Linked DNA regions of Homo sapiens. The protein of the gene in region 3 purifies or fractionates together with the protein of the main gene of each other region. This does not show direct contact. Each region holds a gene or a part of one and is shown on either strand. Other genes may lie near its edges.

Region 1 (3,500 bases), on a different chromosome or scaffold from region 3:
AAATAAATCATTTTCATAGTACAATGATCTGGCTTGCATCAGTTAAATTTAATATTTACAGAAGACCATGGTGGATAAGCTTTTTGATGTGCTGCTGGATTCCATTTGCCAGTATTTTACTGAGGATTTTTGCATCGATGTTCATCAGGGATATTGGTCTAAAATTCTCTTTTTTTGTTGTGTCTCTGCCAGGCTTTGGTATCAGGATGATGCTGGCCTCATAAAATGAGTTAGGAAGGATTCCCTCTTTTTCTACTGACTGGAATAGTTTCAGAAGGAATGGTACCAGCTCCTCCTTGTACCTCTGGTAAAATTCGGCTGTGAATCTGTCTGGTCCTGGACTGTTTTTGGGATGCAAGACTGGTTCAACATAAGCAAATCAATAAACATAACCCAGCATATAAACAGAACCAACGACAAAAACCACATGATTATCTCAATAGTTGCAGAAAAGGCCTGTGACAAAATTCAACAACACTTTACGCTAAAAACTCTCAATAAATTAGGTATTGATGGGATATATCTCAAAATAATAAGACCTGTCTATGACAAAACCACAGCCAATATCATACTGAATGGGCAAAAACTGGAAGTATTCCCTTTGAAAACTGGCACAAGACAGGGATGCCCTCTCTCACCACTCCTATTCAACATAGTGTTGGAAGTTCTGGCCAGGGCAGTCAGGAAGGAGAAGGAAATAAAGGGTATTCAATCATGAAAAAAGGAAGTCAAATTGTCCCTGTTTGCAGATGACATGATTGTATATCTAGAAAACCCCATTGTCTCAGTCCAAAATCTCCTTAAGCTAATAAGCAACTTCAGCAAAGTCTCAAGATACAAAATCAATGTGCAAAAATCACAAGCATTCGTATACACCAATAACAGACAAACAGAGAGCCAAATCATGAGTGAACTCCCATTCACAATTGCTTCAAAGAGAATAAAATACCTAGGAATCCAACTTACAAGGGATGTGAAGGACCTCTTCAAGGAGAACTACAAACCACTGCTCAATGAAATAAAAGAGGATACAAACAAATGGAAGAACATTCCATGCTCATGGGTAGGAAGACTCAATATCATGAAAATGGCCATACTGTCCAAGGTAATTTATAGATTCAATGCCATCCCCATCAAGCTACCAATGACTTTATTCACAGAATTGGAAAAAACTACTTTAAAGTTCATATGGAACCAAAAAAGAGCCTGCATTGCCAAGTCAATCCTAAGCCAAAAGAACAAAGCTGGATGCATCATGCTACCTGACTTCAAACTATACTACAAGGCTACAGTAACCAAAACAGCATGGTACTGGTACCAAAACAGAGATACAGACCAATGGAACAGAACAGAGTCCTAAGAAATAATGCCACATATCTACAACTATCTGATCTTTGACAAACCTGAGAAAAACAAGCAATGGGGAAAGGATTCCCTATTTAATAAATGGTGCTGGGAAAACTCGCTAGCCATATGTAGAAAGCTGAAACTGGATCCCTTCCTTACACCTTATACAAAAATTAATTCGAGATGGATTAAAGACTTAAATGTTAGACCTAATACCATAAAAACCCTAGAAGAAAACCTAGGCATTACCATTCAGGACATAGGCATGGGCAAGGACTTCATGTCTAAAACACCAAAAGCAATGGCAACAAAAGCCAAAATTGACAAATGGGACCTAATTAAACTAAAGAGCTTCTGCACAGCAAAAGAAACTACCATCAGAGTGAACAGGCAACTGACAGAATGGGAGAAAATTTTCACAACCTACTCATCTGACTAAGGGCTAATATCCAGAATCTACAATGAACTCCAACAAATTTACAAGAAAAAAACAACCCCATCAACAAGTGGGCAAAGGATATGAACAGACACTTCTCAAAAGAAGACATTTATGCAGCCAAAAGACACATGAAAAAATGCTCATCATCATTGGCCATCAAGGAAACGCAAATCAAAACCACAATGAGATACCATCTCACACCAGTTAGAATGGCAATCATTAAAAAGTCAGGAAACAACAGGTGCTGGAGAGGATGTGGAGAAGTAGGAACACTTTTACACTGTTGGTGCGACTGTAAACTAGTTCAACCATTGTGGAAGTTGGTGTGGCCATTCCTCAGGGATCTAGAACTAGAAATACCATTTGACCCAGCCATCCCATTACTGGGTATATACCCAAAGGGTTATAAAGTATGCTGCTATAAAGACACATGCACACGTATGTTTATTGCGACACTATTCACAATAGCAAAGACTTGGAACCAACCCAAATGTCCAACAATGATAGACTGGATTAAGAAAACGTGGCACATATACACCATGGAATACTATGCAGCCATAAAAAATGATGAGTTCATGTCCTTTGTAGGGACATGGATGAAGCTGGAAACCATCATTCTCAGCAAACTATCGCAAAGACAAAAAACCAAACACCGCATGTTCTCACTCATAGGTGGGAATTGAACAATGGGAACACATGGACACAGGAAGGGGAACATCACACACTGGGGCCTGTTGTGGGGTGAGGGGAGCGGGGAGGGATAGCATTAGGAGATATACCTAATGTAAATGATGAGTTAATGGGTGCAGCACACCAACATGGCATATGTAAACATATGTAACAAACCTGCACGTTGTGCACATGTACCCTAAAACTTAAAGTATAATAATAAAAAAAAAAACATTTACAGAAGACTTCCTATTGTTACACTATTAGTAAATTTTCCCTTTTTACATATTTCACAATCTAGTCGGAGAAATGGACACAAGGACCACAATGTAATTAGTGGAATACTGACAATCAGAACTAAAGGTTAAAAGATGTTTAGATACATAAGATGACCAAAAGATACAGTAGATAGGAAGGGAGGGGGATGCTTGGAAACACTGCATTTTGTCTATTCATTGTATATTTTTTTGAATTTTTTATGCCAATCCACATCTTTAATATGGTGAAAGAAAGAGTCAGGATATATAAATGAAAGACCAGCCACACGGTCTTACAATACTCCCAAAGTTTATAATATAATCATATTATATTTGTTAAATATTTCTGAGTTTTATGCTAATCTTTGTCAAGTTCCAGAAATCTCTGAATACATGGCAATTCACCTTTTGTTTATAATTATTTCTCATTTGAAATCTGATCAAACTTCCTAAGGATAAGTTTGGTTCTTAAAATACAAGCTCTTTAACTAGCACTAACAGTGATGACACCTGTAAAATGAAACCTTTTCTCAAAATGCTCTCATTTAAATGCACTGCTTAAATTCTGTTGTAAATGACATTCGTTTCTGCAACAAACATTACCTGCTATATTCACGGTATATGAACAGTTTGAGACGTAGCTTGTTAACTAATCAATTTAACTCATCCTTACAACTTATTTCTTAAGAGTACTTACATATTCTTCATAAGCTTCATGGGCTGGAGGAGGAGGTGCCCTGTATCCTGGCACTGTTGGTGCCCCCCGGGCTCGAGGGGTAGGGACACCT
Region 2 (3,150 bases), on a different chromosome or scaffold from region 3:
CTAGAGTGCAGTGGTGCAATCTCAGCTCACTGCAACCTCTGCCTCCCAGGTTCAAGCGATTTTCCTGCCTCAGCCTCCCAAGTAGCTGGGACTACAGGCATGCACCACCACACCCGGCTAATTTTGGTAATTTTAGTAGGGATGGGGTTTCACCATGTTGGCCAGGCTGGTCTCGAACTCCTAGCCTCAGGTGATCCGCCTGCCTCGGCCTCCCAAAGTGCTGGGATTGAAGGCGTGAGCCACCATGCCTGGCCCATAATAACTTCATAACCACAGTAAAGTATTTTAGAGCTCTCTTTGAAGGAAGCACATCTTGATTCATGAAATATCTGAAACTTCAGAGAGCCTAAGTTTTTCTTAACCATGTGACATTAGTGTGAGTGGAAACCAAGAGTATAAACCTAAGCCCTATGTACTAAAGAAATTACATAAGTTAACCTGTTACTGCCACATCATACATTCGGATTTAAATACGAAAAACACCACACAGAAAACAAACATTTTTTTAAAAAAGATTTAAGATCATAAATAGGTCATTGTTGTCACAACACATTTCAGAATCTTAAAAAAACAAACATTTTGGCTTTCTAAGAAAAAGACTTTTAAAAAAAATCAATTCCCTCATCACTGAAAGGACTTGTACATTTTTAAACTTCCAGTCTCCTAAGGCACAGTATTTAATCAGAATGCCAATATTACCACCCTGCTGTAGCAGGAATAAGAGGCAAGGTATTAGCACTAAGAAAAACAGCAAAATTCCTGAACAAAATCATCTGTCATTTTAAAAAAGGGATAAAAAAACAGGCTAAGTGGTGAGCATTTTAGTTAAGAAGGCCCAGTGTTGTTATGCAGGACTTTCCATTAAAAAAAAAAAAAAAATCGAAATATTTTAACTCAAGTACGTTTAATTCACCACAGAGGAGCTAAAAGAAAAGAGAGGGGGTTGGTAAAATACAGTATACTTTCTTTAAAAAAGACTTGGGAGGAAAAAAATCAACTTAGAAGATCATATGAAAGGGCAATCACATGGAACCCAGTTAGTGTCCTAGTTTATTACTAGTCTTCAGATCCAGAAAACAGAGTAAGACACTAGGTAAACAGAACACCTAGGCACATCTGTAAGGCATTTGTTTCCTATCACACAGCCCATTCTAGCTTAACACCCACCAACTGAGATGTAGTGAAATACTAAAACTGGATGCTCAAATTATGTTTTTATCCAACCAAAAAGTTCTTTAAATATAAAATTCCTCACTTTAAACTCTGCCTTGTCTTCTGTGATACCAACAGAACTTTAAGGTTTTATGCAATATGATGATTTCGTGTTACTTTTAAAAGAACCCACAAAGTAAGCAATTGTCCACAGATGAAACATGGGATGAGGTTCATGACTGAATCAATCATGGAGTGTTAGTCAATTGTAAACTCCTGAAAGTTAAGACTAGGAAATGTGTATATCAGACACATAAGAGTACAACAATAGGAGAAAAAGGGAAGCCTGTTTGTCATTCCAATTCTGACAACGTACAAGGTCTTCGAAATTCTTGTCCACGTTCATGGAGCCATTTATTGGATACTGTGAGAGAAAAGTAATATATTAATTTTCCCCCTTAATCTAATCAGTATTTAATTAGTTTCTAAAAGCTAGGTCTATAACAAAGTTTCATCATGGGATAAAAGTTCAACACCAAAACCGGATAAAGGCAGATGCTACTTAAAAACTTGGCTAAATGCTGAAAACACAGATTTTATATACCTATATACATATGTGTACACACTTGTGTGCGTGTATGTACATACATGTATGTATACACATGTATATTTGCCAGTCTATGTGCATTTCTTACAGTTTCCAATGTTCAATGTGAGGCTTGAAATGAGACACAAATGGACCTAAGATACAGGTACAGGTAAGAGTAGAATATTGCTTTATGTATTGTTTTCAAAGTACAGCCTCCAAAATACAAAGACAATAATGAACACAAACTTTGCACTCTAAAGGAACAACTCTCTTATCAACCATTGCTATTGTATGCTCATCAAGTTTCCAAAATACCTTTAAAAAATGTATACCATGTAAAAATGTATCCCAAAAGCAGTTAATTTTCTATTTTTTTTTTGTCTCTGGTACCATAGAACCCAGTCAAAATATCTAAAGCAGGAACCTTAATTCTTAACTCTTTTTCCTTCTTCAACCCTTGTATCTACACTTTATTCATCAAACCCTGACAATTTTCCTTACATCTCTCTCAAATCTATTTGCTCTCCAACCCTTTCACTGATGCTTTAATCCAGGCCATTATCATCTCCCACTTAGACAACAGAAAACAGCTTTCTAAACTCTCTCTCACCAACTAGCCTCTCCTCATTCTAGTCCAGTGGTTCTTAAACACTATAATCATAAGGGGAGATTTTAAAATCCTGATCAGGCCTCACTCCTTAACCTTGTAATGTCCTGTATGTAACCACTCAACATGTGGCTAGTAACACAGATTGAAATGGATACATGGGGCTAATTAATAGATATTAAAACTAATTTTACCTGTTTCTTTTTACTTTTTAAAAATGTGGTCCTGCACTTGCATGTCCCTGACTGAGAGTGAGTGCCTCTTTAAATTTTGCACATTAGGTGCTACTCGAGCCTCACATTAGAACCTGGTATCTAACATGTTTGGAAAACTGCTGTTCTATCTTCAGGACCAAATTTAAAGAAAAAGCTTTGAAGAAGACTCCCCAAACTTAGGCAGTCACCATCTTCTGTTTACATTTTTGTATTAATATGTACTACATTATAATCCATTAGTATGTCTCAATCAGATTATTAACCCTTTGAGGGGAAGATATTGTCTTATTCAATTTTGAGTCAGTCATTGTTTCTTGGAATAAGTAAAAATAGTTAAAAATAAAATCTGTCATCAAAATTCTGATTTCAAATTTGTATTATGATTAGGCACTTGTTTGGCTGAATCCTGTACAATGTTAAAATCATATTAAGCAAACATGGGGGCTTTTGTTTTTAAGACACAGATAATAGTTCCAAAATAAGAAACAAAAATTACATTATCTTCGCAGAATATATGAAATATTTACCCCATTTGTTGCCAACTAGCACTGGACAGGCTGCATGCCGTGTACTATAATCTCCTTCTC
Region 3 (3,486 bases):
CGGTAGACCATGAGGACCCCAATAGGCATAGTGCTATCCTATGACACACAGAGGACACACACACACACACACACACACACACACACACGCAGATAAACTCCAACATGTGCACGATCTCCAGTCATTGAATTGACACCTCATCTGTCCTTTTTCCTCCTCCCCAGCTTAGCCAAAGATTATTCGGCCATTAGGCTTGCAGAGCCTCAGAGGTAGAGGTCTGTGTGTATGTCTGAGAAGTGGGGGTGGGGAGATGGCCTTGGTCACTGCAGAGCCACCTCCCCCTGCTGCTCTGGCCCCACTGCTGCGGGGGCTGCTATCTGTGAGCAAACTGTCCTTGGGGTCAGGGACAGCAAAGAGCCAAAGGTCAGGTCGATGCCTCCCCCAACTCCTCCCCCAGAGGCAGCCAGCTCTTAGGGGCAGGAAGCAGAAGGGACAGAGGAGCAGAAATTCAGGTGTTCAAGCCCCACAGGGCCCACTGGCCAAGGAAAAGAGACATTCAGTAAGAGGCGGACACGGTACCTTTAATGATTAAACACAGCCAGTACCCCGCTTCCCGGGAAAGAATCAGACTTCAGTAGAAATTCCCCACACCCTAACCAGCCTTTTCTGGTTTCTCCTGGACCAGAGTTGGGGGAAAGGGTGGGCTTCAGAGAAAACCAAGGAGTATTCTCACCTCCATCCCCTACCCAACCCATGCCAGAGAGAATGGTGACGACATGGCCAACACGGGGCTGCAGCAGCCATCATGGCACATGGTGGCCCACTGACGTTGTCACCTACCCAGTATGATGTCCATCAAAGCACCCAATGGGCCAAAAAAGGTGTTACACAGAATGGTGGCCAACTTGGCACCTACTGTGCCAAGTACACCAAAAAAGAAGTGGGCACAGCACCTAATGGGGGGGGCCAAAGAAGATGTCACTGAAATGCTATCACCATCACACCCAAAGGGCCAACCGAGATGGTGGCCATCAAACCATGCAGTGGATTAGCCAATAACATCCATCAATGTAGCAGTCCTCACAGTACCCAGTGGGCCACCAAAATGTATCCATGGTGGTTATCACAGTACCCCGTGGATCAACACCATGCCCACTGAGACAGCAGTCATCACAGTAAGTAATAGACCCACCCAGATGTTAACCAATGGGACAAGTGAAGTGTCACCAGAAGGATCAGGCCCCAAGAGCTTCGTGGTGTGAGCTCCAGCCATACCCACCACCATGTTCCCAACCCCTGCTAGGATGCATTAAGCAAAGAGCGGGAATAGAGGCCCTGGTAGTAGACTCCAGGCTCCCCACCTTCAGCCCCGTAGCCCCCAAACCCCACGTCCAGTTTGGGAGGTGCTGGTGTCTGTTCTGACATTAGGTTGTTGATGGAGAAAGGGTGGTTGAAGTTGTAGGGCGCGTCCAGCTTCAGCTCCCCTGGGAGCTCCAGGCCAGTGAAATAGGGTGTGGAGGAAGCGGGTGAGCCACAGTCCAGAGCCCCCACATCTTCCCCGCCCTGGGCCTCAGGCTCAGGGGCTGGAGGCGGGGGCTGGGGCGGGGAGGTGACTGTGGCCGCGGGGGTGGTGGTCGAGGCAGCAGACCCTGTCCCGTTCCTGGTGGTGGTGGCAGCCCCGCTGCCCCCTTTTTTCACCTTCTCCTCCAGCTTGAAGCGTTTCTGGCGGCGCAGGTAGCAGCCATTCTCAAACATGTTCCCTGAGCTGGGGTGTAGGGCCCAGTAGGAGCCCTTGCCAGGCTTGTCTGGGGAACGCGCCACCTTGACGAAGCAGTCGTTGAAAGACAGCGAGTGGCGAATGGAGTTCTGCCAGCGCTGCTGATTCTCCCGGTAGTAAGGGAAGAGGTCCATGATCCACTGGTAGATTTCACTCAAGGTCAGCATCTTGCCCGGCGCCTGCTGGATGGCCATGGTGATGAGTGAGATATAGGAATACGGTGGCTTGGCGTGTGCCAGGGGCCGCCGATACCCCTTCGGCATCTCCTTCCCGTGCACCAGCCCAGGACCCGGGGCCCCGTACCCGGAGCTGCTGCTGCCACCGCTGACACCCAGGCCTGGGAAAGTGGGCCCCAGGGGGGCTGCAGGTGCTGGGGGTGCCAGGGGTCCTGAGGGCAGTGGGGAGGCAGGGAGCCCCCCAGGGGGATAGGGAGAGCTTAGAGGATTCAGGGTCATGTAGGAGTTGAGGGGGGCCATGGTGGGCACTGGGGTCACCGGCGAGTAGACCTAGGGGAAAGATGAAAGGAGGGGTCAGTGGGGCTCCACTCTGCTGGTCAGCAAAGGATCCCAGGACCCACTGAGTGTCCGTCTGTCTGTCCATCTTGCCTTCTCTACAAATCCCTTCCATCATTACCTCTATCTGTAGAAAGCAGTCTCTCAAGGTCTCTCCTCACTCCCTGGACACGCCCTTTCTGCCCCCTGCTTTCCCACCCACCATGCTCCCATACACTCAACATCATCCTTTAAGTGATTCTCCAGGGTTCGGGACTCCCAGGGCAGTCTCTGAAACCCTTTGAGGATGTCCACGAAGTCAAAACTATTTTCAAAATAATGCTATTTTTTTTTTCGAGGCAGAGTCTTGCTCTGTCGCCCAGGCTGGAGTGCAGTGGCGTGATCTCACCTCAATGCAACCTCCGCCTCCTGGGCTCAACCAATTCTCCTGCATCAGCCTCCAGAGCAGCTGGGATTACAGGTGTGTGCCACCACGCCAGCTTTTTTTTTTTTTTTTTTGTATTTTTAGTAGAGACAGGGTTTCTCCATGTTGGCCGGGCTGGTCTTGAACTCCTGACCTCGTGATCTGCCCGCCTCGGCCTCCCAAAGTGCTGAGATTACAGGCATGAGCCACCACACCCGCAATCCTAAGTTATTATTAGCCCTTTTCACTCTCTTTCTCATGAAGTGTACAGTGGAGTTTTCCAGGGGGTGTTGATATTCCAACAGAGAGAATGAAGAAGCAACCAGGAGAATCCAGCTGTCTTCCACTGGGCCAGACTTGATTTGCAAAAATGGAAAAAAACAGTGTCGCTCTTTTGACTAAATTTTTTGAAATTTGGTTTTTTTAATAAAAATCTTTTACACTAACAAATGATTGCTATTTTTAAATGAATACATGTTTGTAATATTTCTCAGTTTTAATTGTAAATACTGTAAACGTAGATAGACATAACCCACATCAACAGAAACTGTTTGGACTCCTAAATAATTTTTTTTTTCTACAGGGTCTCACTCTGTCACTCAGGCTGAAGTGCAGTGGTGCAATCGCAGCTCACTGTAGCCTCAAACTCTGGGGCTCAAGTGATCCTCCTGCCTCAGCCTCCCAAGTAGCTGGGATTATAGGCATGCACCGCACACCCAGCTAATTTTTTTGTATTTTTAGTAGAGACGGGGATTCACCATGTTGCCCAGGCTGTTTTCAAACTCCTGGCCTCGAGTAATCCTCCTGCCTCAGCCTCCCAAAGTAATCCCAGAACTTTGGGAGCCAAGGAGGGT
Region 4 (2,590 bases), on a different chromosome or scaffold from region 3:
TGGTAGTGCCCACCTGTAGTCTGAGCTACTTGGGAGACTGAGCCCAGAGGTTCAAGGCTGCAGTGAGCTATGATTGCACAACCGTATTCCAGCCTGGGCAATAGAGTGAGATCCTGTCTCTACAAAAACAAAACCAAACCAAGCCAGAAAAAGAGATACTTCACAGATTACAGAAGATGTAAGATTCTGTTTGCCTTTTTTTGAGACAGAGCTTCACTCTTGTTGCCTAGGCTGGAGTGCAATGGTGCAATCTTGGCTCACCGCAACCTCCGCCTCCCAGGTTCAAGTGATTCTCCTGTCTCAGCCTCCTGAGTAGCTGATATTACAGGCGCATGTCACCACGCCCGGCTAATTTTTGTATTTTTAGTAGAGACAGGGTTTCATCATATTGGTGAGGCTGGTCTCGAACTCCTGACCTTAGGTGATCCACCCGCCTCGGCCTCACAAGGTGCTGGGATTACAGGAGTAAGCCAGCGTGGCCAGTCTCTGTTTGCCTTTTTAATGTCATCTACTTCATTTTGTAAGTAGGGTATCAAGGAAATAATTATCAAGGTATAGTTTGGGAAAAGGTGAGCAAATCCTTAACACAGCTGGCCCAAGGTTTTATTTGGTAGGTCTAAATCTTGACCTTATGGCTATGAAATTTCAAGTTTGTGCTTGAATACATGATTAAAAGAATGAAAATGAAATGACCGATAGTACGTACCATTTTAGTTTTTATTAATAAAATAGAAACTTAGACTCGGACAACTGCTTTATTCTTGCATCTAATCTGACCATATATTGGAGTAGCAATTCTTTATAAAAGGACTTCGGTGAGAACTGTCAATATATCAGTTCCATCAAAAACTCTAGGTTGGAATATCTTAAAAACAGCAAATTAAATATGAGAAAGCACAGAAATCTCTCCCTCAAACAAGAAGGGCTTCCTTTAATAGACTTTAATATAGCTCATTTACAATCGTATGAAAATCCATCAAGATCAATCATGTTGCACAATCCCTAAAGGATAAAACTGAGGGAAGTCATGGATAATTTTCACAGCTTCATTGTAAAGTCCAAGATCTGAAAGAAACATTTAAGCAAACATTTAATCTACAATGGAAAGTTGTAACATCAATTATTATCTAAGATATTTTTACCTATTTCCTTTTTCTCACCCTTTTGGAAGTGAGTTTCTAAAAATGGAGATATGGATTATGGATTCTTGTATTTAACTGTGGCACCAAAAAAAAGACATGGGAGTACCATCCATTTTGATGTTCATTATACAGGCAGTTTCTGCCTGGTAGTGTTTTGGGTGTTATGCATTATTCAATTCCTTCAATTCAGATATTACAACAAAAAAACTAATACTATTTTTGTTATATTTAAAAAAATTATCTTTCAACAAACATTAATTAATCTTTACTGAGTTTCTTACATATATAAGCACTACTTAAAAGCAGGCCAAAACAAAATGTACCCCCATTTGCCTTTACGATCACAAAATTCTATAGAAATTGAAAATGTGGCAGTACTAAAACTCTAGACCAATATATATCAAACTAAAAATAAAACTGTTTTCCTGTATGTTTATGTTATGTAATTGTATGTAATACATACAATTTTGTATGTAATACAAAATGTATGTTAAAACATAGTTATATAAAACTGTATGTTATGTAATTACATACAGTTATATAAAACTGTATGTTATGTAATTACATACAGTTATATAAAACTGTATGTTATGTAATTACATACAGTTATATAAAACTGTATGTTATGTAATTACATACAGTTATATAAAACTGTATGTTATGTAATTACATAAAACCAGTCAATACTAGAATGCTTTATTTACCAAAAGGATGGCTATCTTCTTTAAACTGGACATAAGATGTACACAAGATGGTGGCCTTGGCGGTTACTCTTCCAACCACTTCCACAATTCCAGAGATTTCTTCATCAAGCTAAGACACAGAACAAGACATCGATTTGGTGATATCACATTTTCAGTTGACAATTATTTTGGAAAACTGTTATACAGGTTACTAATCTATCACTTCAAGTAACAAAGTAATTTTAAGAATTACCAGTGTAAAAGTTAAAATGTAACTTGTTAACAAATGTTTGAGTACTTAACTGTCAGCATGTTAAAATTCCTGCTACCTTTAGCAGTAGCTTCAAGTCCAAAGCTACAATTCAAGTTAAAGACAAAATCACTATTGAAAACGTCCAGCATTTCTATAAGCAGTAATATCCTATGAGAGGAATCTTCTATAATCTGTATTTCACAATGTGTTCTGTATACATTAACCAAACAGCATATGGATTTGTCTTCACAAAATACCAAAAAAAGTTTTAAGTATGTTAAACATAAAATGCAAACATAAATAAGTAAAAACTGGAAATATATGAACAAAAATAGAAAATAAAATAAAATCGAAAACTCTTGAGGGGCTGGTCGAGGCAGGAGGATTGCTTGAGACCGAGAGTTCAAGACCAGCCTGAGGAACATAGGGAGATGCCATCTTTACAAAAAACAAAACAAAACAAAACAAAACAAAACAAAACAAAAATTAGCCAGGCATGGTTAAGCATGCCT
Region 5 (4,074 bases), on a different chromosome or scaffold from region 3:
TCTACTGATTGCAGCCATTTAAATGTCTGCATTGAGAGCTCAAGAAATGAAGGCATCCACGATCCATGAGGACACATGAGTTTCAAATTAAAGATTATGAAAACACAAACCTACAAAGTGTTAAAAACAAACAATTAAAACAGCAAGTGAAACACCCAAAGTTGGAAAGATTGTCTTCATTTCAATATTGATACAATCCCTATTTAATAAGGTGGCCATTTTTAAAGCCATCACAGTACCTTCAGCCTCCTGTTTTTAGACTTTCTCGGTGACCCCAGAGCACTGCCTGCCTTTCCACTTGCCTCAGGGCAACTGCTGAGAGCTAATGATTCAATTACCTAATTACAGGATATGAACGACTGAAAACCATTCTGTCCTAATGGATTATGAAGATAATCAGTGCTGGGAATGAACAAATAAAGTAATTTTTTAAAAAAACCCTTAAATCAGAATGGCACTTCTGAAGTTCATTGGGGGGCGGATTATTAAAAAATACTTCAAGTCCCTTTATACTGGCCTGGAGGGAGAAACAAAACATTAAAAACAGATATTTTAAAAACCCTAGGCAAGAACAAAACCAATAATAAACAAGTAAAAATCAGAACTACAAAGTCAGGTTGGGCAGCAGAAGGTTTTAGAGCCAGATAAGGGGAAGAGAGAAAAACAATTCACAAAATTTGCCACCATTGGCAGGGGGTGGGGGGAATTAAATACATATTCAAGTCTTTCCAAAGGCCTTTTGGAGACAACCGAATGGCTTCTAAGCTGTCTGTGGCCAACCTGGACCACATCAGGAGACAGTATCTTTGAGCTTGGAGACAATTTTCTTGTCCTTCACTCTTCGGTTCTGAAACCAAATGGTCACTTGTCTCTCAGATAGGTTCGTAGCAGCCGAGATACGCCGCCGCTTGTCCTTGTTAATGAATTTGTTAATGGCATACTCGTTCTCCAGTTCTTTAAGCTGCAGTTTGGTGTAAGGCACTCTCTTCTTCCTCCCTCTTCGGTAGACGCACATGTCCGGCTGATTTAGAGCCACATCCCCTGATACAAACAAAAGCACAAGAAAAATTAGGCTGGGATATTCGGAGCACCTAGCTGAGGATTGTGTGTGTGTGTGTGTGTGTGTGTGTGTGTGCGTTTGCAGGGGTGCAGGAAATTTTTAAAAAATGCCATGCTGTTTGGTCTTTATTATGTACATAGACATAACACTTACCTGTTATTAAAGAAGGATTATTTGCACTTAACAACAATGGTTAATTTGATTGATTATCATAGTTTCTCAAACCGGCATCTTAACAAGCTTGCAATTTTATGGTGTGGTTATTGGGCACGTTCATGAGGACAGTTTCTGCAAATGTCGGTTGTATAAAAACAAACTTACATACATAGACACATACCAACTCAGGTCTTTTGCTCAAATTTTGATTTCCCGCGTTCCTATGTTAGGAGTTCGTGAGCTTGATCTAACAAGCTTTAGTAGTCATCTTGGGGCAGTGATGTCTTTGAAAATGGGGGGACCCAACTCTGTCAGGTTTCTTAGGAAAAAGTTCTCTTTAGGAGAAAAGGGAGAGGCCCAAGGAAAGGGCACGCAGAGACTCTCAACTTTAGGAGAAAAACGTGTCTGCGCTGCACACAGGAAAGAAAGGGCAGTGACGGAGGCAGTTGAAATCAGAGGAGGAATTTACAGATTTCACACGAACTGGACAAATTTCCACTGGGTTAACCCTGGTCACGTGTGGAGCACAGGCACAACTCCCACTCCCAAGTAGGGGCGCATACTCTTAGTCCTTTCTTTTCTCCTTCTCTCTCCCCCTCCCTCGTGTCGGTCCCTTTTCTCCATCGCCCCTACCTGGAAAGGAAGATTTCCAAAAGTGGGACCCCTGTGGCTGGTCCTTGGTGCAGTACACCTGGCTGTTCCACCCGTTAGCCAGCGTCCAGGACTGGTACCCCTCCATGGAGATGTAGGCCTCGTGCCGAGGCTCCCCGGAGCCGAAAGTGGACACCATGTCGATATAGCCGGGCACGTGCTGGTAAGGGCTCGTATAGCCCTGGTAGAAGGATACCTCCTTGGCTCGCGCTGGCACCTCGTTGGCCGGTACGCTGCTGCTCGCCAGGCCTGACACGTCCATGTACTTCTCCACGGGAAAGCCTCCCAGCGAGGCGTGCGGCGATGACTTGAGCGCATTCTGCTGTAAGCCCACGCCGTGCGACATACGGCAGCTGTAGTAGCCGTTGCCGAAGTGGTAGCCGTAGCCCAGCGCTGGAGCGCTCGGGGGCGCTGCAGCGGCCGCTGCAGGCGTGGGTGCTGGGCACTCTTTGGCTGGGGGAGCCTCCGGGCGCGCCGCTACAACGGCAGAAGAGGACGACGACGAGGAAGAGCCCGTGCGCTCAGAGGTCCCGGGGTACGCAAAGCCGGAGGCTGCCGCCGCCGCCGCCGCAGCCGCCGCTGCCGCCGCCGCCGCCCGCCCCGAATGCGTCCCGGCGAACACAGGCGCGGAGAGAAAGCCGCGGCACTGGCCTGACGCCGCCGCCGCCGCCACCGATGAGGAGGAGGAAGAGGCCGGGGCGCCACCGGCGCCCCCGCCGTCTGCCCGCAGCCCGTCCATGTCCCAGCTCCCGGCGCGGCTCATGGCCCGGCCTGGCCCGGCCCCGGCCCTGGCCCTGGCCCCGCGCAGGACACCATGGCGCGGCGCGCCTCCTCCCTCCTCTCCTTTCTCTCTGGTTCGCTCGCTCCCGCCCTCTTCCTCTAGCCCTCTCTCCCTCTGTGAGCCTCCCGCCTCCGGCCCGCCTGCCCTCCAACAGGTTAGCTCATCGCGGGACGTTTATAAAAACGAAGTTCAGGTTGGGAGGGGGCCTGGGCCGGTCGGGGGGCCGCCTCCCGCCCCGAGGGCCCCCGCCGGGGGCGTGCCATTGGCTGCGCGCGGCCACGTGGGGGTAGGAACGCGGGGGAGCCTGGCTCCCGGCCCAGGCCTGGCTGGACCCACCCACTCCGGCCCCCACCCCTCTCCTGCCCCTTGCAGGGTCCACCTCCCATTCCCGCCCTCCCCCCCGACCCAGGCGTACGCGCTGCAGCCACCCCCACGAGTTGATTGCGCGACGGCCCATCCCAGGCCCTGTCTGCGACTGAGGCGGGCGCCAAGGCCTGCGCCTTGTCTCGGCAACCGCTGTTTTTGCCACCTCTCCTCGGCTCCCCGAGTTGCACAGCAAAATGAAGACGAAGGACAGAGATGATCAGAATGATGTGAAAACAGGCCCATTTTTTTATCCTGTTGCTGAATCCCTCAGTTAGTCGACTTCTAGACCCCAAATCCGAGTGAGCTAATTTGCCCTACCTTGTGCACTGGTACCCGGCAAAGGCATTTCACACAGGTAAGAGGCATTGGAGCAGACCCTTCCTATACACACACGCTGTCCGTTCGGAAAATGCCCATGAAGCGCCCTTGGGGCTGGCGGCAGAGACTTAAACAGATGAAAGACAGGCATCGGCGCAGTGAGCCTGACAATCTGTCCCAGAAAGAAAAGTCCATGGATGCCTACTCAACGCTCTTCGCCTCTACTCTTGGGCCAGCCGGGAGTGCTTCCGACCTGGGCCTCTCAGCTCCCGCGGGTCCTTCTTCGACCCGCAGAAAGACCCTGAGAACGGCGCCGGGGGAGAAAGCCACTCAGCCTCCCACCGTGAAACTTCTGTGTCTCTCCAGCAGCCGACCGGCCTCGCATTTTGCAGTCACCACCCACTCCCGCCCGTTTCTCACACCAAATTAATTGAAAACTTCACTTTCCCAGGGACCTTTGTTTCGCTTCCTTTTCCAAGCTGTCAACTGCAGAGAACTGAGAGGGGCAAATTAAGAGGGCGCTTGTTCCAAGCAAATTCGGATTTTGTGATAGGAGCAGCCCAGAGAAACGGTCTGACTTCAAGGGGTTAGGTGGGCTCAGGGCAGTGCTGGTGGGGCTAGGTCCAGCTCTGGAACCAAGCTGCCAGGGTGTTAGGGATTACAGCCCTGTCCCTCATCATCCCTTTCTGTTGCTCCTCAGCCTCAGAGCTCCAGCCCACCATCCCTCAATCTCAGCAACTAA
Region 6 (3,500 bases), about 31 Mb from region 3:
TCTCTTTATTAGATTATTTAAGTTTAAAAATAATTAAAAAGAAAATGTCATCTCAGTTTCCATGTGACATGAAAAGTCATCTACTCTATCCATTTATCTGTTTAAAATAACAAGGGTTTCAATGTTCCTGTACCACTTAAGAAGAAACAGTTCTGCGTTTGGTTCCTGGCTTCGTTTTGCTAAGCATTTCTCTCTTTTTTTTTTGAATCCTTGATTTAAGGTTCACATGGAACAGTGATTTTCTTTTTTTTTTTTTGTTCCTGAGATGGAGTCTTGCTCCGTCGCCCACGCTGGAGTGCAGTAGCACAATCTCGGCTCACTGAGATGGAGTTTTTATTTGAGATAGAGTTTCGCTCTTGTTGCCCAGGCTGGAATGCAGTGGTGTGATCTTGGCTCACTGCAACCTCCACCTCCTGGGTTCAAGCAATTCTCCTGCCTCAGCCTCCCGAGCAGCGGGGAATACAGGCATGCGCCACCATGCCGGACGAATTTTGTATTTTTAGTAGAGACTGGGTTTCTCCATGTTGGTCAGGCTGGTCTCGAACTCCCAACCTCAGGTGATCCGCCTGCCTTGGCCTCCCAAAGTGGTGGGATTACAGGCGTGAGCCACTGCCCCCAGCCCGTTTCTTTTTCTTTTTGAGACAGAGTCTTGCTCTGTCGCCCAGGCTGGAGTGCAGTGGTGCAACCTTGGCTCACTACAAAGTCCACCTCCCCAGTTTAAGTGATTCTCCTGCCTCAGCCTCCCGAGTAGCTGAGATTACAGGCACCTGCCACCATGCCTGGCTAATTTTTGTAATTTTAGTAGAGATGGGTTTCACCATATTGACCAGGCTGGTCTTGAACTCCCGGCCTCAAGCGATCCGCCAGCTCAGCCTTCCAAAGTGCTGGAATTACATGTGTGAGCCACGGCATCTGGCCCCTTTTACTAAGCATTTCTTTGAACACGACAATCACTGCCCAGACTGGGCGCAGTGGCTCACGCTTGTAATACCAGCACTTTGGGAGGCCAAGGCGGGCAGATCACAAGATCAGGAGTTTAAGACCAGCCTTGCCAACACGGTGAATCCCGACCTCTACTAAAAATACAAAAATTAGCCAGGCGTGGTGTCAGGCGCCTGTAATCCCAGCTACTCGGGAGGCTGAGGCAGGAGAACCGCTTGAACCTAGGAGGCAGAGGTTATAGTGAGCCGAGATTATGCTATTGCACTCCAGCCTGGGCGACAGAGCAAGACTCCATCTCAGAAACAAACAAACAAAAAGAAAATCACTGTCCCATGTGAACCTTAAGGTCAAGGATTCCCCAGCATCACATGATCACTGGTGATTTCAGTTTCTAGTCAGAAGCCACTTAACTCCTGGCAGGGAGAGGCAGGCACATGGTGTGCTCACAATGACATCCTTTGGGCTCAACATTTTTGCAATCCTTTTCTATTGTGGGACAAAATCTTGATGGTAGGATCATCTCTCTACCTGTCTCCTAGCTGTGTCAAACTCCAGGGGTGGTCTGGATTTGGATAAGGTGAACACAGGACAGTGTCTGAGATGCCAGACACCAGGCTAGGGGGCAGGGATGCCCCTCAGGCCTGCAGGAGAGTAACAGAGCCCGCTGCTGAGCAGTTATGGACCACACAGACCCACCAGCAAGGCTGGGATTCCAGAGGAATAGAGACACAGGAGTCAAACACCAATCCTCTAAAGCAAGAACAGAAACCTAACCACCAAAGCAACGTCCCAGCCATCCTAGAAGACAGGTAGCTCGTGTGCTGGGAGCACGAGTGATGGTCTTTTCTGCACTCCCAATTGTTTACTGTTTTGCCTCCCACTGGTTTGGCCAGAGGAGTCAGGCCACCAGGCCCCCAGCATTGTGGAGCGAGGACAGGTGAGCTCGGCAGCGCCTCCACCGCACGAGTCCACCTCCTCCTGTGGGGTCGTGTGCCCGCGCCTCACCTGTCGGCTGCACGGTCCCGCGTCCTGTCTCTTCTCCTTTGCTTTTCCCTTCTCTTCTTCACATCCTCGTCCTCGTCCTCCTTCTCTCCTGTAACAGACAAGTCCCTTCGAGACGCTCTGAGTGGCCTGCAAAGGAGCTGAGCTCCAGGGCCTGGTCGGGGGGCTGCAGCTTGGCCACCGCACCCTGTGCCCTGCCACTGCCTGCACCACGCGGCAGGGTCCAGGATGCCCCAAGGCACTGTCAGAGACTCCTGGTGGACACGGGCCTGGAGTGAGAGCCCGGAGTAGTCACCAAACTCCCCACATGGCCTGAGGCGGCCAGGATGGGCTAGGGACACAGCCTGCCCACCCCATGTGCACCACAGCCCCCTGCTCCCTCTGTCCTCCCCATTCTGCTTGTCCAATCTCATGCCCTGCGATGGGGTCTTCTCCCAATATCACAGGAGAAGCCAATTCTCCCCGGATGAAGAGGCGGCAGCTGAAGGCCTCAGGAAGTGAAGCAGCTGCTCCGCCGCCCTCTATCCCACCTCTAGGTGGACTGTGACGAGCGTCCTGGCGGCCCCGTCTGAACTAGGGCCTCAGCAGGTCTGACAGTCCTTGCTGGCCCGACCTCTATCTTCCACTCACAAAAACCGTCAATCTAGGGCTTTCCCAGGGCTGCGTGGGAAGCAATCCTAGAAAAAAATTTGGGAAGAGACCAATTGGTCCTCCCGTCCGTCCCCCGGGGCCAGCAGAGGAGCTCCTCGGAGAGCCACGCGGCCATCATCCCAGCATGAGGCCAGGGACGGACGCTGAAAAAAGGTTGGAGAAGCATCTGAACTGTAACCCCTACCCCTGATGCCAGTCCCGAGACTGTCCCACGAAGATGGCGACCGGCGTGCGCTGCTCAGAAGCCTCTCAAAAGGGCGTGTGGGATTTTTGGCAAGAGGTCACTGCCTGAAACTATGACTGCTGTTTAATAGCAAAGTCATCCCGGGTAGGTAGCAGGACCTGCGCGCAACAGACATGTCACCTTTGCTTTAGCATTGTGCCGCTAAGCGCTCGGGGCGCCCCGTGCTATGGACAGGACTGCTGCGGGTCGCGGGGGGGAGGACCGCAGAGGGCTGGCAAAGCCTGAACAGGAGGAACATCTAAGCCAAGGGCCTTCAGAATGGATGGGAGCAGGGCCACTGAGGAGCCAGCCTATGATCCTTGGGGTAACCAGCTACGGAAAGACCCACAGGACAGGTAAAGAAACGAGTGGCTTCAGGGTGAGCTCCAGGCCGCGGCACCTCAGGCCGCTCTGCCATGAGGGATTTAAGCCTGCTCTGCTGTTGCTGCAGACCCTCTGGTCTCCTGCATTGGACATGAAGAGACCTGCTGAAGGGCGCCCGCCTCTCAAAGACCCAGTGGGCCTGGGTGCTCCCGACCCCGCAGGTGTCTGCTGTCACACACTCGCAGGCACGAAGCAATGTGCAGTGCAGCTGCCAGTATCCCCACCACAGAGGCCCACAGCACAGCCCAGGGCAGGCGACTGAAGGAACTGGACAAAAGGAAGCCCCAGAGAAAACACT
Region 7 (3,500 bases), on a different chromosome or scaffold from region 3:
AGTCAGACCCATAACCTCTGGCCTGGTTCCCCAGCCCCTCATGTGTGTCAGTGGCCCAAAGAGTACTACTAGGAGAGGCCGTAGTTCTATGCTCTCTGGACCAGGAACTATCAGCCTTGTTTCCCAGTACCCCCTCAGAGTGCTGCACATGATCAGAACAGGATTGACTTCCACCAATCCATAAGTAGGGGTTGGTCCCAGAGTCAGCCCCACAGCCAGAAGAGGATCTTGACTGTGTAAGGGCACCCCTCACAAACCACAGAGTATAACTGAGTTTGTACGCATCAACTGGAAATTTCCAGCCTGATGGACCACCGTGATTACACCATTGTGATCATCAGTAAGAACGCCCAACAACATCACGGCTATGGCAGAAGCTCTCTTAAATGAGCTGTCCTTTATTCGGTAGACACTGAACCACTAAACCAATGATCTTAAAACACAGGGCAGACAAAAATTATAGATGGCTTCAGCCAAGTAGACACTAATCATGAAGGCAATGGAGAGGCCAGAAAAGACTCAGGACAAGGACTAATGAAATCTACCTAGTCGTGGGATGTGAGGAAAGCACCCTGACTACAAGGAGAAAAAGGGCATCTGTGCGAATGGATTAAGATCAGGAGAAACGGCTAGAATTTCAACCTAGAGAGCTTTGCCAAAGGATATCTAAGGCCTTGTCTACCTCCAAACAAGGGTGGATTTCACAGTGATTGAGACAGAGATGGAGACCTGAGCTATCTGGCCATGGGCCAGACCTGTTGACTCTAGTGGGGTGCACTGAGGAAGAATGTCCTTCCACATAAATGTTTACAAAAACACCTCCTAAGAACTAAAATTAGGAACTTTCATCACCAATACTTGCCTCATATCTAACTTCTCACTTCTCAGTATCATTTTTTTTTCCTTTTTGAGTCTTTACTATGTTGCCCAGGCTGGTCTCAAACTCTTGGGCTCAAGTAATCCTCCTGCCTCAGTCTCCTCAGTAGCTGGAACTCCAGGCATGAGCCACTGCACCCAGTTCTCAGCATCATGTTTAATACTTAAAGTGCAACCTAGCAGGCCCCCGCACAACAGTGTCTCCATTTTTCACTGATGACAGTTATGACTGATTATTAGAATACTTCATATCTATTTAAGAATTTACAAGTCATGAACATTCTGATATACATCCTTCTCACTTGCTCTTCCTCCTCCTCACACCCTTGGGAAGTAGAGAAAATAGAATTTGAATGAACTTGTGTGAGAAAACCCAGAGCCCAGAAGTTGAGTAACCCCAAGGTCCTGTAGTAATAAGGAGGCACAGTCAAGTTAAGGAGTCTGCCATTGTTTCCATCACATGCCCCTAAAAAACAACCACTACAGAGTTCTTCAAGTCAATGGGAAGAACACTCAAGTCCCACATCTACAGAACTATGGCCACACTGACACTCATGCAAGCAGTTGATATTTACCAGTAGAAAGCTGGGCTGCTGCAGGTGAGGGAACGCCATAGCAGCCTCCAGTGGAGAGTTGAAAATGGCCTTCTTAGCAAACCACTGTGGAAAAACAAAGACAAAATCTCAACATCTGTAACACAGCAGAATCTTTTTATATTATTTTTTTAGAGACAGGGTCTTGTTCTGTTGCCCAGGCTGGCATGCAGCAGCACGATCATAGCTCACTGCAACCTCAAACTCCTGGGTTCAAGCAATCCTCCCACGTCAGTCTCCTGAGTACAGGCACGTGCCACTATGCCTGGCTAATTTTCTTCTTTTTTGAGACAGGGTCTCGCTATGTTGCCCAGGCTAGTTTGTCAGGCTGTGATGCCCAGGATCCTGGCCTCCACTGATCCTCCTGCCTTGGCCTCCTAAGTGTTGGGGTTACAGGTGTGAGCCACTGCACCTGGCCCTAACAAAATATTACATAGTTTCACAATGCCCAGGAGAATATCACACATTACATTACCAATTCGCAACACACATTACATTGCCAATTCTCATGTCTTACTTATTGATTAGAGACAGGCTCTTGCTTGCTCACTCAGGCTGCAGTACAGTGGTGCGATCATAGCTCATTGCAACCTCAAACTCCTGAGCTCAAGTGATCCTCCTGCGTCAGCCTCCCAACTAGCGGGAACTACAGGCAAACATCAACAAGCCCAGCTAATTTTTGTACTTTTTGTAAAGATGGGGGTTTCATCATGTTGCTTAGACTGCTCTTGAACTCCCAGACTCAAGCGAACTATCCGCCTCAGCCTCCCAAAGTGCTGGGATTACAGGTGTGAGCCAACACGCCTGGCCAGCAATTCCCATCTTTTATAGAAATGCTGTTCTCAGCCGGGCATGGTGGCTCCCACCTGTAATCCTAGTACTTTGGGAGGCTGAGGCAGGAGGATCACCTGAGGTCAGGAGTTCAAGACCAGCCTGGCTAACATGGTGAAAACCCGTCTCTACCAAAATACAAAAATTAGCCGGGCATGATGGTGGGTGCCTATAATCCCAGCTACTCAGGAGGCTGAGACCCGAGAATCACTTGAACCCAGGAGAGGTGGTTGCAGTGAGCTGAGTCACACCACTGCACTCCAGCCTAGAAGGCTGAGCAAGACTCCATCTCAAAAAAAAAAAAAAGAAAAAAAGAAATACTGTTCTCCTGCAGCCCATAGTGGCCAGCTTCAGAGCCAAGTTTGTAGTACTGAATCCTCGGTAATGCTTGTACAGCATTTGTTATATACCAGGACTCGCTCTAAATGCTCTCTATATATCTCCTCATTTAATCCTCAGTGGTAGGCAGAATTCTAAAGATAGCAGCCCAAGATTCCCGACCCCTGTTTGTTCAATCAAATACTCATCTAGGTACTGCTATGACGGCATTTTGCACATCCAATTAGAGTCCTAAGTTAGTGGACCTTAAGTTACAGAGTAGTCCCCAGCTGACAGCCAGCAAGGAAACAAAGACCTTAGTTCTACAACTCCAAGGAACTGGATTCTGCCAGCAACCTAAATAAACCTGGAAGCAGCTTCTTCCCTAGAGTCTCCAGATAAGAGCAAAGCTACCAACACCTTGATTTTAATCTTGTAATGCCTGGACTTCTGCATACATAACTATGAGATAATAAATGGATGCCGGTTTAAGCTGCTAAGTTTGTCATACAAGAATAGAAAAACCAACCTCACAACAACCCGATGGGTACAGATGTACTATGACTGCAGGTCAGTACAGATGATGAAGGAGAGGCAGAAATGGGATAATTCACTTACCCCCACCCAGCTAGTAAGTGGCAGAACCAAGATTCCAATACAAACACCACCTCACAAAACTGAGACAGGGGCAAATCCCCTCCATATTACCTGTGCACTATGCAATGAACGGAGGGGAAGAGCAAGCTCTGCCAAGGGAGCCTTTGAATAAGCCATGAGAAAACTAGGATCAAAGGCCGGGCACCATGGCTCACACCTGTAATCCCAGCACTTTGGGAGGCCGCGGTGGGCAGATCACTTGAGGCCAGGAGTTTGAGACCAGTC

Evidence for each region.
Region 1: the proteins of FOXA3 (region 3) and KHDRBS2 purify together in Homo sapiens (affinity purification with mass spectrometry; 2 studies listed by BioGRID and IntAct, with this or other methods). This does not show direct contact.
Region 2: the proteins of FOXA3 (region 3) and P4HA1 purify together in Homo sapiens (affinity purification with mass spectrometry; one large-scale study listed by BioGRID and IntAct). This does not show direct contact.
Region 4: the proteins of FOXA3 (region 3) and RPA3 purify together in Homo sapiens (affinity purification with mass spectrometry; one large-scale study listed by BioGRID and IntAct). This does not show direct contact.
Region 5: the proteins of FOXA3 (region 3) and HOXD13 purify together in Homo sapiens (affinity purification with mass spectrometry; one large-scale study listed by BioGRID and IntAct). This does not show direct contact.
Region 6: the proteins of FOXA3 (region 3) and AKAP8 purify together in Homo sapiens (affinity purification with mass spectrometry; one large-scale study listed by BioGRID and IntAct). This does not show direct contact.
Region 7: the proteins of FOXA3 (region 3) and SMPD4 purify together in Homo sapiens (affinity purification with mass spectrometry; one large-scale study listed by BioGRID and IntAct). This does not show direct contact.

What each region holds. Positions count from the first base shown.
Region 1 is NC_000006.12:61,891,226-61,894,725, forward strand, and holds part of KHDRBS2 (KH domain-containing, RNA-binding, signal transduction-associated protein 2), read right to left. Parts: coding exon 3,410-3,500; intron 1-3,409. UniProt on the Homo sapiens protein: RNA-binding protein that plays a role in the regulation of alternative splicing and influences mRNA splice site selection and exon inclusion. Binds both poly(A) and poly(U) homopolymers. Phosphorylation by PTK6 inhibits its RNA-binding ability.
Region 2 is NC_000010.11:73,006,717-73,009,866, forward strand, and holds the end of P4HA1 (prolyl 4-hydroxylase subunit alpha-1 isoform 2 precursor), read right to left. Parts: coding exon 3,091-3,150; intron 1,577-3,090; coding exon 1,506-1,576; 3' UTR 501-1,505; downstream 1-500. UniProt on the Homo sapiens protein: Catalyzes the post-translational formation of 4-hydroxyproline in -Xaa-Pro-Gly- sequences in collagens and other proteins.
Region 3 is NC_000019.10:45,870,812-45,874,297, reverse strand, and holds the end of FOXA3 (hepatocyte nuclear factor 3-gamma), read right to left. Parts: intron 2,224-3,486; coding exon 1,240-2,223; 3' UTR 501-1,239; downstream 1-500. UniProt on the Homo sapiens protein: Transcription factor that is thought to act as a 'pioneer' factor opening the compacted chromatin for other proteins through interactions with nucleosomal core histones and thereby replacing linker histones at target enhancer and/or promoter sites.
Region 4 is NC_000007.14:7,636,018-7,638,607, forward strand, and holds the end of RPA3 (replication protein A 14 kDa subunit), read right to left. Parts: intron 1,956-2,590; coding exon 1,847-1,955; intron 1,066-1,846; coding exon 983-1,065; 3' UTR 501-982; downstream 1-500. UniProt on the Homo sapiens protein: As part of the heterotrimeric replication protein A complex (RPA/RP-A), binds and stabilizes single-stranded DNA intermediates that form during DNA replication or upon DNA stress.
Region 5 is NC_000002.12:176,091,447-176,095,520, reverse strand, and holds the start of HOXD13 (homeobox protein Hox-D13), read right to left. Parts: upstream 2,801-4,074; 5' UTR 2,631-2,800; coding exon 1,850-2,630; intron 1,042-1,849; coding exon 791-1,041; 3' UTR 1-790. UniProt on the Homo sapiens protein: Sequence-specific transcription factor that binds gene promoters and activates their transcription. Part of a developmental regulatory system that provides cells with specific positional identities on the anterior-posterior axis.
Region 6 is NC_000019.10:15,366,288-15,369,787, forward strand, and holds part of AKAP8 (A-kinase anchor protein 8), read right to left. Parts: intron 2,036-3,500; coding exon 1,948-2,035; intron 1-1,947. UniProt on the Homo sapiens protein: Anchoring protein that mediates the subcellular compartmentation of cAMP-dependent protein kinase (PKA type II).
Region 7 is NC_000002.12:130,175,103-130,178,602, forward strand, and holds part of SMPD4 (sphingomyelin phosphodiesterase 4), read right to left. Parts: intron 1,536-3,500; coding exon of another isoform or gene 1,491-1,535; coding exon 1,452-1,490; intron 1-1,451. UniProt on the Homo sapiens protein: Catalyzes the hydrolysis of membrane sphingomyelin to form phosphorylcholine and ceramide. It has a relevant role in the homeostasis of membrane sphingolipids, thereby influencing membrane integrity, and endoplasmic reticulum organization and function.